Homo sapiens: one gene and its partner. The protein of the gene in region 1 purifies or fractionates together with the protein of each later gene. This does not show direct contact. Each region holds a gene or a part of one and is shown on either strand. Other genes may lie near its edges.

Region 1 (7,021 bases):
AGGAAGAGGGGGTGTTCCTGGGCGGTGGCCTGCAGCCTTCCTTTCACTGAGGCATCCGAGCCCAAGGAGCTGCAGTCTCCCCTTGGGAATATGACATAACCATAGGAGGAAAGGGCCTTGAAAAAACAGACCGGTGTCCACATGTCCTTCGGCACAGGAAGCCCTGTCCCATCCTGTATGCGGGAACTCCAAGATCTGCCAACGCTCTAGCATCACCTCGTCTCCTGCCAGACAAATACCCCAAAGCCAGCGATCTGATAGGATGTGTTTATATTTACACGGTACATTTTAAAGCAATGGCTACATTGGTCATACATATTAGAAACCATAAAAAAAAGTTAAGAACTAAAATGTACATCATACACTTGTATATATATTTTTTACACAGAGGTAAAAAGGCTTATTATAAAAAAATCAATACAACAGGGTTTTTAGTATACAGGTAAAGAATGAATTATGCTTCAGGCACTTTAATTTGTTAATGTGAGCAAATAGCTTGGGGGGTCGGGGAGGCTTCTGGACAGAAAATCTTTTGGTTAATGTTTTGTTACCACAGATACAAAAATAAAATCTGAATAATTTCTCTCAAATGATTGACGTCAGTATGGCAAAGCTGACTGGGAAAATACTACACACTGTTCAGCTGCAGTGTGGCAATTAGAGACGTATTTACATAAATGTCCCCATGGCTGTCTTTGTGCCCTTAACCGATGCCTTCACAAACCAAAAAGTATACGTGGAGTAAGATCTGCTAGCGTAACTCTTAAAAGGGTGGAAAAGGACAAGGGGTGAAAGAAGAGAGAAACAGGTAACAACTAAATAGAGGTGACAAACAAAAAACAGCTGGGATATGTGCGTTCTTATTGAAATAAATAGGGGCACTTGAACTGAGGTCTAAGGAAACGAACATTAGTGTTGTGCTTTGTAGAGAAGAGACCCTAGAGAAAGACCCCAAGGAAGTGCCTCCGGGTCGGGGGAAGGTGGTCTCTCGACAGCACTGGAGGCTGGCTGAAGGTTTTCTAGATGTTCTCCAGGCATGGATGAGGTTCTCTTTTCTTCCATCAATCCAGATGGACAGCTCTCTGCTCCTTTTCCAAACTGGAAAGCCTAAACCAGTTACTCCAATGAATGAAGACGTCTACTAACTGACTCATAAGCACACTGGGTATTTACACCGGTAATCTACTAAAGAAAATCGATGAGCTTGTGGACGAGCTGGAAACAGCCCCATGAAGGTGAGCACAGCTAGCACTTTCCCAATATGATTGGCAGACTGGAAAAAAGTCCCTTTCCTTGAAGACTGGTGTCCTGTGTGCAATAAAGAAGGAGTGGGGAAAGGGAGTGGGGAGCAGGCCATGTCTTCTGCTGGCCGCTACCACAGAAAGATCGTGGCGGGAAGAACAGCCGGCGTCCGCAAGCCTGTCCCCGGTGGTCTCCACGAGGTTCTGATTGTACTATGCTAGGTATAGGTAACCACTCTTCACTTTTCTTCTTTCTTCAATAAGAAGATTTGGCTAATCCTTGCAACGTATTAGAAAAATACTCTTTTCCAGCTAATTAGAAGCCTCCTCCGTGGCAAGGCGACAGGCAGAACCAGTTGGCTGACCTAACCACCTGTGCACCCAAAGTGGCGAGTCTGGGTTTGGAGTTGCAGGAGAAAGACACTTAGGCATTGGAAGGGTTTTTACATATGGCCTTGTTTTTTCCCCAAGTATAAATGAGGAATTTGGTGATGTGAAATTGAGTCCAAAATGAAACGAAAACATAAACCCATGAAGAAAATGCAACCCACCACTCTTCAAATTTATGACATTTAAAAATCCCCTCTCCCCATTAATATAAAATAGCCAGGGGTTGGGGGGAAGAAGCTCCCTATGGTTTTATTCACCATAACCTTAGTGTTTCTCAACTGGAACTTGTTCGTGGGAACACTGATTTGTGTTTGAGGAAACTATTTGGTTTGCAAAACAACAAGCAAAATTTCTTACTTCACTAGTATCCTATTCTAATATTGCTAAATTTTTAGAAGTGGTGGCAACACAATTTAAAAAATGTTCTACTTTAGGGGTAATGGGGAGGCTCATAGAAACCTGAAATCCCCATTCTAGCCCTGGTCCAAGAGGATGCAATGCAGTTGAAGGAATTTTCCTGATTCTCACAAGTTAATCTGAAGTTAAGGCTCAATTCTCAGTCTATTACGGGTGAATGTTTTGCATCAGTGAATCATTTCAACAGATTTTGGGGGGGCAGAAAATGATGATGGGCTAAAGATAGAAACTGCAGCTTACATGGGAAATTTGGCTTTAGAAAAGTTAAAGCGATATTGTTTTGTGGTACAAGTTTGTTAACTAGCTCACCTCCTATACATAATAACTGACTGCAGGCTGAGATACTTCTGTCGGGTTTCATCATTCTCACATCCCATTTCCGCTGAACCAGATGCTTGCTAGCGACAGGCAAGGTGAACCAAGAGAAAGAGAGTCTTCGACGCTCTTGGAAAAATCAACTACAAAACCCACCGAAAATCAGCAGTTCCAATTGCAGACTCCTTTGAACTGGAAGAGGCGGGGGAGGAGGAAACAGGAAATCAACACATGGATGAGACAGTTAGCTTGGTTACAGATTGTTAATAGTACAGGAGTCTGTGGCGAAGGTTCCTTCCTCAGAACACTGTGCGAGCGTGTGTGTATGGATGTGGCTGCTGCAGTGTGGGCGGCAGGGGGAGTGGAGAGTCTACCCGGCAGCGTCCCTGGCTGGAATGGTGCCTCGAGGTACCAGGGAGCTGGGAGGCCGCTTGCCCTCCTCGCTCCTTGGAGTGGAAGGGAGCGGGGGAGAAGATGAGAGTATGTAAGAGACGAGTTCCCCTGTGGCTGCGGATGGAGGGAGAAGGGAGGGAAACTGAGTCACGCGGCCGCTTTGTGCTTCCCGCCACAGCACCTGCACATCACTCCGCAGTGGTAGCAGGCCCGAAGGGGCAGGTAACAGCACATACAGGGGGCCAGGAAAGACAAGGCAATAAGAGCCATCCACCGGAGGCAAAACTTCTCGTCGCTAGTATCGCACGAGCAAGGGTCTGTATAGTCTCCCTCGGGGTCCGACATACAGTGATAGAGCATGCTGTCCGCGCACCACATGCAGCTCACCCGGCGGATGCAAGTTCTCACGGAGTCGGGCGCGTCCTGGCAGTGGCCCCGGCGGTTCTCCTCGTGGTTGAACATGTCCCTGCAGTACACGCACCGCGAGCGCTCTCCGTCCTCCTTCCGCCGCCGCGACTTGCCCCGGGAGGGCTGCGTCTTGATCACGCTGCCCCCGCGGCCTTTGGGGTCCTCGCCTAGGCCAAAGTCTGAGGAGTCCACGTAGGGGTAGTTGTAGTCATGCTTGGGGACCTCGCCCTTGGCGAAGCGCACGTAGGAGGAGTCCGCGTCCTCCGAGGGGTCCGGGTACTTGCCCCTGACGGGTGCGTGCCGGTAATCCTCGTACCCCGTCATCCAGATCTTCTCCCGGGGGTTGATGCGCACGATCTCCTCGTCGTCGTCCGGGAAGCTCACCTGGCGGTAGGGCCTTGGCATCGGCTGTCCCGTAGGAGAGGAGACATTATTTTACAGCAGCGGCCAAAAAACAAACAAACAAAAAAACACCCCACCTTCTCCCTCCCTAGCCGTCCAAAATGCACCTTTCTCGATAACTCCATCACGATGCTCCGTGAAGAAACAGACCCTTCCTGAAATTACTGAATATCCTGTCGCCCAGTCAGAGATGTATTTCAAATAGAGTCTCAATCCATTAATGGGCCAGGAAATCAATTTCGTGGGTTGAGACCGGCAGTATTTTCCCTTTCTGGTGACGCACTGCCATACAGGCAGGGGAGTGTGCACATGGCAAGGGCACAGTGTGATGCGTTCTCAGGAGCATGGCACACTCAGATCAAGAGGCAGAACAGGACCTGTGCCCCAGAGTATCTTCCGCCTCCCTCAGGGATCTCCTAGCCCCAGTGTGAGGGCTACACTCACTTCTAAAGGCCTGCATTAGTTTTGCCTATTTTTGTATGGTATGTTCTCTTTTGTAAGGCTGGCTTTTTAAAAATTGAAATAGAATAAGGACACTGGAGTGCAATACATGTGAGAAGGTAAGTCCTGTTTTACGAAACTTCATTATCCATATGTGCACAATATGTCCACAAAGGATCACAATAGGAGATGCATTTCTCCCTGTGGGTGTCTCCTTCAAGAGACAGGGGACACTAGGAAACAGTAGCTCACCATGTCATCTGGTGAGATGCGGACAGGAGAAGGATAGAGTGAAGGCTCCGGAAACTGAAGTTTCACTCCTGCCAGGATCTCACAAATAGTGAGTGGCCAGACCAAGAGCCACACCCTCTAGAAACCTGCAAATCTAAGCTGCATTCTCCCTCAGGGTGGAAGAGGCTTTTCTCTGCAGTTAGTCCTGCTACAGGCTGCAACCCTGCCTTGTCCAGAGCAGCAGACACTGAATAAATATTTATTAATTACATGCATATAACCCTGGCTCACCCAGGGCCTCTCAGTGGAGGCAGAGAACTGAGACTTCTTGCTTTCGAAGTCCTTTGGGCATGAAGGTTTTTCAGGGGTTGAGGAACGTGGCTCTGGAGTGACTCACTGCAGTCAAATGCTGACATTTTCTAGCTAGTACCTAAGACTCAGGTTCCATTTCTGTCGAACTGCATAGGACTGTTTTGAGAATGAAGAGAAACAATCTACAGAGGGTGTCAGCTCACAGCCTTGCTCACAGGATGCACTTGATAACTCTCGCCATCACAGTCATTATCATATTGTTACGGACTTGATCATGCGCTTATTAGATTTACCCATCACTTCCTACCAGAGGGCAGGGCCATGTCCCACACATTTTACCTTAATTCCTGTCAAATTCTTGGTATCAGAGTTGCCTAGATTTTTGAAAATCATGATTTCAGAAGGATTTCAAAACAAATCTCGGAAACTGACACGGGCTTTACTAATTCTTTATTTTGGACAGTAAGGAAAGTAAAAAAGTTAATTTCCATCTACTGCTAGCATAATGTGATATTTATTTATTTATTTATTTTTTGAGATGGAGTCTTGCTCTGTTGCGATGACGCAATGGCGCAATCTTGGCTCACTGCAAGCTCCACCTCCTGGGTTCACGCCATTGTCCTGCTTCAGCCTCCCGAGTAGCTGGGACTACAGGCGCCCGCCACCACACCCAGCTAATTTTTTGTATTTTTAGTAGACACGGGGTTTCACCGTGTTAACCAGGATGGTCTCAATCTCCTGACCTTGTGATCCACCTGCCTCGGCCTCCCAAAGGGCTGGGATTACAGGCATGAGCCACTGCACCTGGCCAATAATGTGATTTTTAAATAGGACATTTTAATCCCAAAATATTAGGAAGCACAATCTAAAATAATTTTTTTAAAAAGAGTCAAATAAATCTAGTTTTATGTTTAAAAACAAAACAAAACAACTCACTGCCCTTTTTTCTCATTTCAAAGCAGCCTAGTGGCCACAGCACCCCACACAGGCACCAGTCCATGCCCCATGATTTGGGAACTTGCTCTGCAAAGCAGCCACTTGGTAAATATTTGTTGAACTACCGAATTCTGAGCTCCAGCTACATCCGCCTGAGCAAGACTGGGCCTGTAGCCTGTAAGGCTGGGGGCTCGAGCCAAGTGTGCAGCATTCCTTAGTCCTGATTGTGGCTCTGGGCTTCCACACAAAGCTGGGAGGCCCTTTGGACAGAGGAATGCAGGACGCAGTGTAGCCCCCTGGGTGAGAACAGGCTTGGATTTGAATCTCGTTCCATCAGATACTCCACCTCTCTAAGCCTCAGCTTCCTCATCGATAACCTGGGGAGGCTGAAGACTTGCCTTGTGGGGCAGTTTCTGAGGATTAAACCACATAAAGCATATAAAGGGTCTGGCAAGGTGTCTGGCACACAGAAAACACTGGATGAGGCTGAGGTGCCACCACCAATGCCACTTTCAATATGAAGTGGGGGTAAAGGCAGGAGCAGGAGAGGCCTGTGGTCATGGAATTTGGCTGAATAGGAGGGGAAAGAGGCCATTCCAGAATCAGAGGCACCACCCTGATGCCCTCAGAGGAACAGGGCTGCTGCTCACCTGATCGAGGTGATAGTGGTCTGTGGGGTATGAGTCGTGGAGGTGGCCCAGGGTATAAATCCTCCGGTGCTCACAGGATGTGGGAGAGGAGATTGTCCGAGTAGGTTGCTCTCTCTTCTGAGAGGAATTAGAAGAACTGTCTGTAGCTGTCTGTGTAGAGGGAGGTAACCAAGAGTCAATTTAAAAACAACAACAAAAACCCCACGCAGCAAACCCTGACATGCACTATTCAAATACTAGCTATTCCCTGGTTGTGGCAATTTGCTGCTCTTCCCAAAATCTTGAGTTTGTCTTGGCTACAACAGGAGGACCCCTGAATGGCCAGATTGTCTAAACACAATGTGGCTGGTTCAACAGGCAGAGAAGCCCAGCCACCAGACCCTGGAAAGGTAGGTTTTTCTTAAATGCGGGAATAGTGACTGGGTGCGGGGGGAAAGGCTGGATATACCAGGCTCCCCAAAGGTTTGTGTTCTAGTTTGATCAAGAATGGTTACCCTGGCCAGGCGCGGGGGCTCATGCCTGTAATCCCAGCACTTTGGGAGGCCAAGGCGGGCGGATCACCTGAGGTAAGGAGTTCAAGAGCAGCCTGGCCAATATGGCAAAACCCTGTCTCTACTAAAAATACAAAAATTAGGCAGGCATGGTGGCAGGTGCCTATAATCCCAGCTACTCGGGAGGCTGAAGCAGGAGAATTGTTTGAACCCGGGAAGCGGAGGCTGCAGTGAGCCAAGACTGAGCCACTGTACTCCAGCCTGGGTGACAGAGCAAGACTCCATCTCAAACAACAACAACAACAACAACAACAACAACAACAACAACAACAACAAAAACAAAACATAAATAAAAGAATGGTTATCCCATCTGTGGCCCTGGTTGTGAGGTGTT
Region 2 (7,680 bases), on another chromosome or scaffold:
CCAAATATTGTAATAGTGTTTAGTGTTTTCATTCATATTAACCAGCAGGAAGCATAAAGAGTACCTGTTAATTTTCTGTTTAAAGTGTAGGTGGGGTCCAATGTAACTCGCTTTCACAATTTTCAAGCACCACTATGTGCCGCATATACTTACAGGCACTAAGAATACATAAGAACAGCCAGAGCCCTGTTGTTATGGAGCTAACAGTTCAGAGAAAATGACAGACAAGGTGCTCTGTAGTAAAATGAATAATCTTTTAGATGGTGACTGGGTGCCCACCTAAGGGAAGGTGTCTGAGGTGACATTGAAGCTGAGATCTCAATGACAAGAGATCCAGCCAAATAACCATCAGTGAGAAACAGCATTCCAAACAGTGAGGAAAGCTGAGACAAAGACTCTAAAACTGGAACAAGCTGCTAGCCCCTAAGGCACTGTAACAATCACCATCCAGGAGGTTGAAACCCTGTAATCCTGGCCTATTAGTGCCCCTTCTCACTCTCAAAAATGTCCTGACCTACCTATGACAGTTTGTCAAGCACTTATGGTAAGTTCTATCAATTGTACTCACACATAAAGGTTAAAAGTAAGATTGTGCTAGTTTAAAAATCTCACAAAAAAATCACCTAGCCCAGTCATTGATAAAACAGATACACAACGTTAAACCACATTTAGCAACATGTCTAAAGAAAAGCTCATTAAAAAGTACAAAAGGGGATGCTCCCCTTCTTGCTACAGCCTTAACATCAGGCAATAACTCCAAAACCAAATCATGTCTGGTGCCTTTAATGATCCCGACCAGAACCAGAAGTCTACTGAAGATTTAGGTAGGATCAGTTTTGGGGAATTAGGGGAGCAGCAGCTAGGGTTTTCAAAGTAAAGCTCTTGGAGTATTTTAGCCTGAGAACCTCATGTCATTTTCTTTGGAGACTAAAGATGTACAATTTATTGCTTTCACTATCCCACCCCCATTTTTTTTTCTTGGTCCATCCTATCTATGATAAAGGCACACCTGAATGACATTTAATGGTTACGAAATAAATGATTTCGAGTTTCAGAGCCAAATCCAGCCAAGACTGACTAGAAACCACTGTGATGAGGTAAGAATTGGGAGAGTAGAGAAATGGATTCCAAACTGCAGTGAGGTCTACAGCATTTCAAGGACTGGACGTGAGGGGGATCCCACACCAAGACGAATGAGAATTCCCTTCCCTTCTGAGTTGACCACAACTGAGTAAGCTAGGTCCCTGACATTTCTAGTTAACAAAACTAAATGGGAGACTCTCTCTCAGGAGGATCCTGCACCAAGACGAATGAGAATTTCCCTTCCCTTCTGAGGTGACCACAACTGAGTAAGCTAGGTCTCTGACACTTCTAGTTAAGAAAGCTTAGAGACCCTCTCAGTTCACAAAACATTTCGGCAAGTAATAAAGACTAGCCTGATGAGTATAAAATCAAATCATCTTAGGAACTGGCTGCTTTTAACAGGGCACATGATTTACATTCTTGTTTCTTTTTTTAACTGCAGAAGTGTTTCACATGTAGCCTGACCTATTGTACCAGAAAGAAGCCAATCCATTTAGGACTGTAAAAATCAGGAAATACTTAGAACAGCACTTGAATGTCAAGTTATTCTATCAACACAGACAAAAGGCTTTTTCTCCCAAAGTACCCCAAGACAAGGCCAATACTAACCAGACGCCAAAATAAGACCAATAATTACCCACAATAATCATTTTCTCCGGCATGCGGACCAGTCGATATCCCCAAGGTCAAATATGAGCAAACTGTGCCATAGGTATGAAATGCACGCTTTGTTCGAGGTTGTACGGGGCACTGACCGGAACTTTACACTCCAGGATCGTTTCGAAAAATGCTTATTCAATCCACAGTTTAAGTTATGCAATAATTCGCTTAAAAGTATGTGTTCAACGGACAAGAGAAGTTGAAGGTAAGAATTTAATACTAAAGGAAGTAGGTTTGGGAAAGATCAAATGGGAGAAAAGTCTGCTCTGAATCAAAAGTCGGAAAATACCCTGTCCGATGAGAAACAGGAGGCTGGCAAAGTGGGAAAGGAAGGGTGCGGACAGCGCGCGGAGGCGCAGCTGTTGGTGAGACCAGCCGAGAAGGCTGCCAAGGGAGGTAGAGACGGAGGAGGACCGGAATGTCGGCCACGGTTCAACCCAGGGGCCAGCCCGCCTCGGAAAGTCCTGGGGCGGAAGGGCGAACTAATCGTCCCCCTAAAACACAGCGTAGACCCACGCGGCGCCTGCTCTAAAGCTGGCCGCTCCCCGATCGCCGCCGCTGAGCGCGCGTCCTCTCCAGGGGAAGCGAGGGCCGGCGCGTGTCCCGCCCGCCCCCGCCAGCTGGGCCGCCGGATCCCACCCGCCGCCGCCGCCTTCCTCCCGCCTCGGCCGCCCGCCCCCGCTCACTTTTACGCGGTTGAGTCCGGCCTCCAGCCGGAGCTGTTGAACCACTTTCTTCATAGCGGCGACGCTGGAGGAGCCAGACATGGTGCACGCGACGGCCGGGCCGATTCGTGGGTCGGTGGGTCGTGGGCCGTGGGTCGGCGGGGCCAGACAACTCAGCGGCGCGCGGCGGGGGCGGGGCTCCGAACTTTGTCTCTAAGTTTCCGGTTCTGTGCTCAGCGGCTCCACCCTCGGTGCGCATGCGCGCCTTGCCAGCCCTCTGTTCCAGCTCCACACCCGGCCCCGAGCGCGAGCCTGGAGGAGGGGGAGGAGAAGGGGCGGAGCAGTCGGTGGGCGCGGCGGCTGCTGGAGGCTAGCGCGACCCGACTCTTAAGTTTTCTTTTCCTCTCCAGAGGGGCCGATTAGGGAGAGGTAAGGAGAGAGCTTACCGTTAGCCGCGAAGAACTAAGAGGGGGTCTGAAGAGGACCAGGGAGGGAAGGCAGAGCTTGTGGGAGTTTCTAAAAGGCCCGGCGGCGGGTGACCAGGAGGTCTCAGTTTTCCTCCCAGTTTGTGGGAAGGGTTGAGGGAAGTGAGGGGAGATACTGGGTGAGGCGTAGGAGCTACTGTGCACCCGGCGTGAGTCACCCGCACACCCCCGCCCCGTACAGGCGTGTCTCTCTGTGACCCGAGTTTGGCCAACAGGCATTTTCAGTTCCACCCCCAACCCCCAGCCCCGCTGACCCGAGGCGGAGAGCAGGCGCGGAGGTCGCTGTCGCGTACCCAGCGGAGCCGGGCGGGCGGGGAGCAGGGGCGCTGATTCGCTGGAGAAGGGATCTTCTCGAGGTTTGACTTTACTGGCTTCTTAGCTCTTGAATCGGTTTTTCTGAAGGAGATTGTGAAGAAGCCAAGGTGCTGGCTGAAGATTACACCTGTCTGCTCGGTTACCCATTTACTCTGGAGAATTAATGCTTATTGTACTTTTTAAAATAAAACTTATTTTTGTGTTTCCGGAAAGTTTGCTCTTTAGTATTTCCGTTGTAATTTATTACCTCCTGCTTGAAATTGAGTACCAAAGGAGTTTTTAGGAGAGAGGGTAGGGTCTAACCAAACAAAATAGGCTCAGCCAGTAGGTCTTTCTTTCATCCACGGAAATATGTGTGTTATGTCACAGCACTAAGGGCAGATGTTTCCTATTTCTTTTCGGGTAGTCAATCTCCGAATGCGCTGATGTTTTCCATTAATGTTAATAATTTTATCATTAATGGATTTCAAATTTTTTATTAGGGAAGCATGTGTAATTGCACTGGTCAACAAAATCTAATTTATTTACTCAACAGTTTATATCAGTTCGCAAAAATGTACATCGTAAGTTTAGCATTTTACTTAATTCATACGGATGTAATGATTGGGGTTAAAACCAGGGTTTGAATTCTGGCTCTGCTACTTACGGTATTCTTGGGCAAGCCACTTAAGTTACTGAGGCTTTATTTCCTTATTTCAAAGTAAATTATACAGCTTCGTAGAGTTGTTTTTCGGAATGAAATGACATTATATGTAAAAAGAATGTGAAAGCTATCTCAATAAATATTGTCTTTTCCCAAAAGGTATTGTAATTATTTCACCTTTGGTGCTTTGTTGACTGTATAATGCTAAAACGTCATTCATACTTTACAGATTTGTAAGATTAAACACAAGTATCTATTCAAAGAATGATCTGTTTTACAGTAGTTGTAAAATATATCACTGAACTCTTAGAACCGTGGTATGTTAATGCTGGAAGAGATTTTAGGGAATATATGGTCCAATAATTACTTCTGTGAGGGAGACTGTTGAGGAATAAGCAGTGTTTTAGGCCGAAACAGTTTCAGAAAAAAAAAAAATTGTTGCTTTTTTATTAACTGCTGCATTGGGAAACCACAGACTGGAGTGCTGTCTCAAACACCAGGTGTTATTTTTTTGTAGCGTGTGTTTAAAGATTCTATTTAGGATACAAAAGAAAAATAAAACATTGAGGCCTGGTATGGTGGCTCACGCCTGTAATCCCAGCACTTTAGCAGGCTGAGGCGAGCAGATCACGAGGTCAAGAGATCGAGACCATCCTGGCCAACGTGGGGAAACCGTCTCTACTAAAAAATACAAAAATTAGCTGGGCGTGGTGGTGCGCGCCACCCAGGAGTCCCAGCTGCCCAGGAGGCTTGATGCAGGAGATTCGCTTGAACCTGGGAGGCAGAGGTTGCAGTGAGCCGAGATGGCACCACTGCACTCCAGCCTGGCGACAGAGTGAGACTCCGTCTCAAAAAAAAAAAAACAAAACCATTGAGATAACTTTAAGTTCAGTTGCATCTGAAGTGATTACCAGTAAATATAGTTTATGAACTATCTGTATCTCTTAAACTTTTGTTTAGATGTTCTTTGACCTTCCACAATGATCTAAGACATTTCAAACATGTTACCAACTGTACAGACATAGATGCTCACTGTTCAGTTGGTTGAAGACTGGCCTGTTGTCACCAAGAGGATTCTTTTAGCAATAAATGCCAAGAAAAGACCACCAAGTAATCTGTCACTTTATGTTTTGTCAGCAGAGCACTGTCAATTTAAATTTACCTGAGATCTTCACCGTATTCAATTAATTAGTACCCTAAGTTCTTTAGTTCACTAGGTCTAAATTCAGAATTTGAATAAATAAGAGTCACATGCTGTACTTTGTACTTTAACTAAAAGCTGAATCTCTTCAAAGGGGGATTTCACAATTCTGACTTCTTTCTCAAAGAATGAGCTTATTCTGTTTTTATAATGGCTAAGGAAATTGAAGTTTGGAGAAAAAAATATATACAATAGCTACAAATAAAATACTTAGGAATTAACCAAGGAAGTTAAAGATCTGTACAAAGAAAACCATAAAACACTGATGCAAGAAATTGAAGAGGACACAAAAAAAATGGGAAGATACTCCATGTTCATGTATTGGAAGATTCAATATAGTTAAAATGTCTCTAATACCCAAAGCAATCTACAGATTCAGTGCAATCTCTATCAAAATACCAATGACATTCTTCACAGAAGTATTAAAAACAATCCTAAAACTTATACAGAACCATAAAAGACCCAGAGTCACCAAAGTTACCCTGAGCCAAAAGAATAAAAATGGAGGAATCATGTTACCTGACCTCAAATTATACAACAGAGCTATAGTAACCAAAACAGCATGGTACTGGCATAAAAAAAAAAAAAACATAGACCAGTAGAACAGAATAGAGAACCCAGAAACAAATTCATTCACCTACAGTGAACTCGTTTTTTACGAAGGTGCCAAGAACATACATTGGAGAAAGGACAGTCCCTCCAATAAATGGTGCTGGGAAAACTGAATATCCGTATTAGAAGAATGAAGCTAGATGTCTCTCTCCTCGTATACCAAAATCAAATCAAAATGGGTTAAAGACTTAAATCTAAGACCTCAAACTATGAAACGTCTATAAGAAAACATTGGAGTTGGGGCATGGTGGCTTACACCTGTAATCCCAGCACTTTGGGAGGCCGAGGCAGGTGGATCACCTGAGGTCAGGAGTTTCAGGCCAGCCTGGCCAACATATAGTGAAATCCTGTCTCTACTAAGAATACAAAAATTAGCTGGGCGTAGTGGCACATGCCTGTAGTCGCAGCTACTTGGGAAGCTGAGGCAGGAGAATCACTTGAATCCGGGAGGCAGAGATTGCAGTAAGCGGAGATCACGCCATTGCACTCCAGCCGGGGTGACAGAGTGAGACCCATCTCTCAAAAAAAGAAAAGAAAACAGTGCAGAAACTTTCCAGGACATTGGATTGGGTAAAGATTTTTTGAATAATGCCCTACAAGCACAGGCAACCAAAGCAAAAATGAACGAATGGGATTACATCAAGTTAAAAACCTGCACAGGGCCAGGCACGGTGGCTTACGCTTGTAATCCCAGCACTTTGGGAGGCTGAAGCAGGTAGATTTCTCGAACCCAGGAGTTGTATAACAGCCTGGGCAACATGGCAAAGTCAAAACCCCATCTTGACAAAAATACAAAAAGCTGGACATGGTGGCATGTACCTGTGGTCCCAGCTACTTGGGAACCTGCAGAGGTCAAGGCTGCAGTGAGCTGTGATCATGCCACTGCACTCCAGCATGGGCAACAGAGAAGCCCTGTCTCAAAAAATAAAAATAAAAACCTGCATTACAAAGGAAATAATCAGCAAAGTGAAGAGACAACTCACAGAATGGGAAGAAATATTTGCAAACTATCCATCTGATAAAGGATTTATAACCAGAATATATAAGGAGCTCAACTATATAGGAAAAAAATCTAATAACCCGCTTTAAAAATGGGCAAAAAAGCTGAGTAAACATTTTTCAAAAGAAGACTTACAAATGGCAAACAGGTATATGAAAAGGTATTCAACATCACCGATCATCAGGAGAAATGCAAATCAAAACTACAATGAGATATCATCTCTCCCCAATTAAAGTGGCTTTTATGCAAAAGATAGACAATAACAAATGCTGGTGAGGATGTGGAGAAAAGGGAACTCTTGTACACTGTTGGTGAGAATGTAAATTAGTACCACCACTATGGAGACCAACTTGGAGGTTCCTCAGAAAAAACTAAAAATAGAGCTTCAGTATGTCCCAGGAATCCCACTGCTAGCTATAGACCCAAAAGAAAAGAAACCAGTATATCGAGGTATCAGCACTCCCTTGTTTACTGCAGCACTATTCACAATAGCCAAGATTTAAAAGCAACCTAAGTGTCTATCAACAGATGAATGAATGAGTAAAGAAAATGTGGTACAAATAAACAATGGAGTACCGTTCCGCCATAAAAAAGAATGAGATCATCTCATTTGCAACAACATGGATAGAACTGGATGTCATTATGTTAAGTGAAAAAGCCAGACACAGAAACACAAACCTCACATGTTCTCACTTATTTGGCAGTAAAAATTGAAACAGTTGAACTCATGGAGATAGTAGAATGATGGTTACCAGAGGCTGGGAAGGGTAGTGGGGTGGGGACTGGGGATGGTTAATGGGTACAGAAATATAAGTTAGATAAAGTGAATAAAATCTAGTATTTGATAGCACAAAAGGGTGATTATAGCCAACAATAATTTATTATACATTTTAAAATAAGAGTATAATTGGATTTTTTGTAAAACAAACAATAAATGCTTGAGGTCATGTATACCCTATTTACCCTGATGTGCTTTTCACACATTGTATGCCTGTATCAAAATATTTCATGTACCC

Evidence for each region. The genes of interacting proteins can lie anywhere in the genome.
Region 2: the proteins of SPRED2 (region 1) and GNG5 purify together in Homo sapiens (affinity purification with mass spectrometry; 2 studies listed by BioGRID and IntAct, with this or other methods). This does not show direct contact.

What each region holds. Positions count from the first base shown.
Region 1 is NC_000002.12:65,310,598-65,317,618, forward strand, and holds the end of SPRED2 (sprouty-related, EVH1 domain-containing protein 2), read right to left. Parts: intron 6,287-7,021; coding exon 6,137-6,286; intron 3,573-6,136; coding exon 2,904-3,572; 3' UTR 254-2,903; downstream 1-253. UniProt on the Homo sapiens protein: Negatively regulates Ras signaling pathways and downstream activation of MAP kinases. Recruits and translocates NF1 to the cell membrane, thereby enabling NF1-dependent hydrolysis of active GTP-bound Ras to inactive GDP-bound Ras.
Region 2 is NC_000001.11:84,503,582-84,511,261, forward strand, and holds the start of GNG5 (guanine nucleotide-binding protein G(I)/G(S)/G(O) subunit gamma-5), read right to left. Parts: upstream 3,001-7,680; 5' UTR 2,855-3,000; intron 2,838-2,854; exon of another isoform or gene 2,805-2,837; intron 2,721-2,804; 5' UTR 2,511-2,720; coding exon 2,430-2,510; intron 1-2,429. UniProt on the Homo sapiens protein: Guanine nucleotide-binding proteins (G proteins) are involved as a modulator or transducer in various transmembrane signaling systems.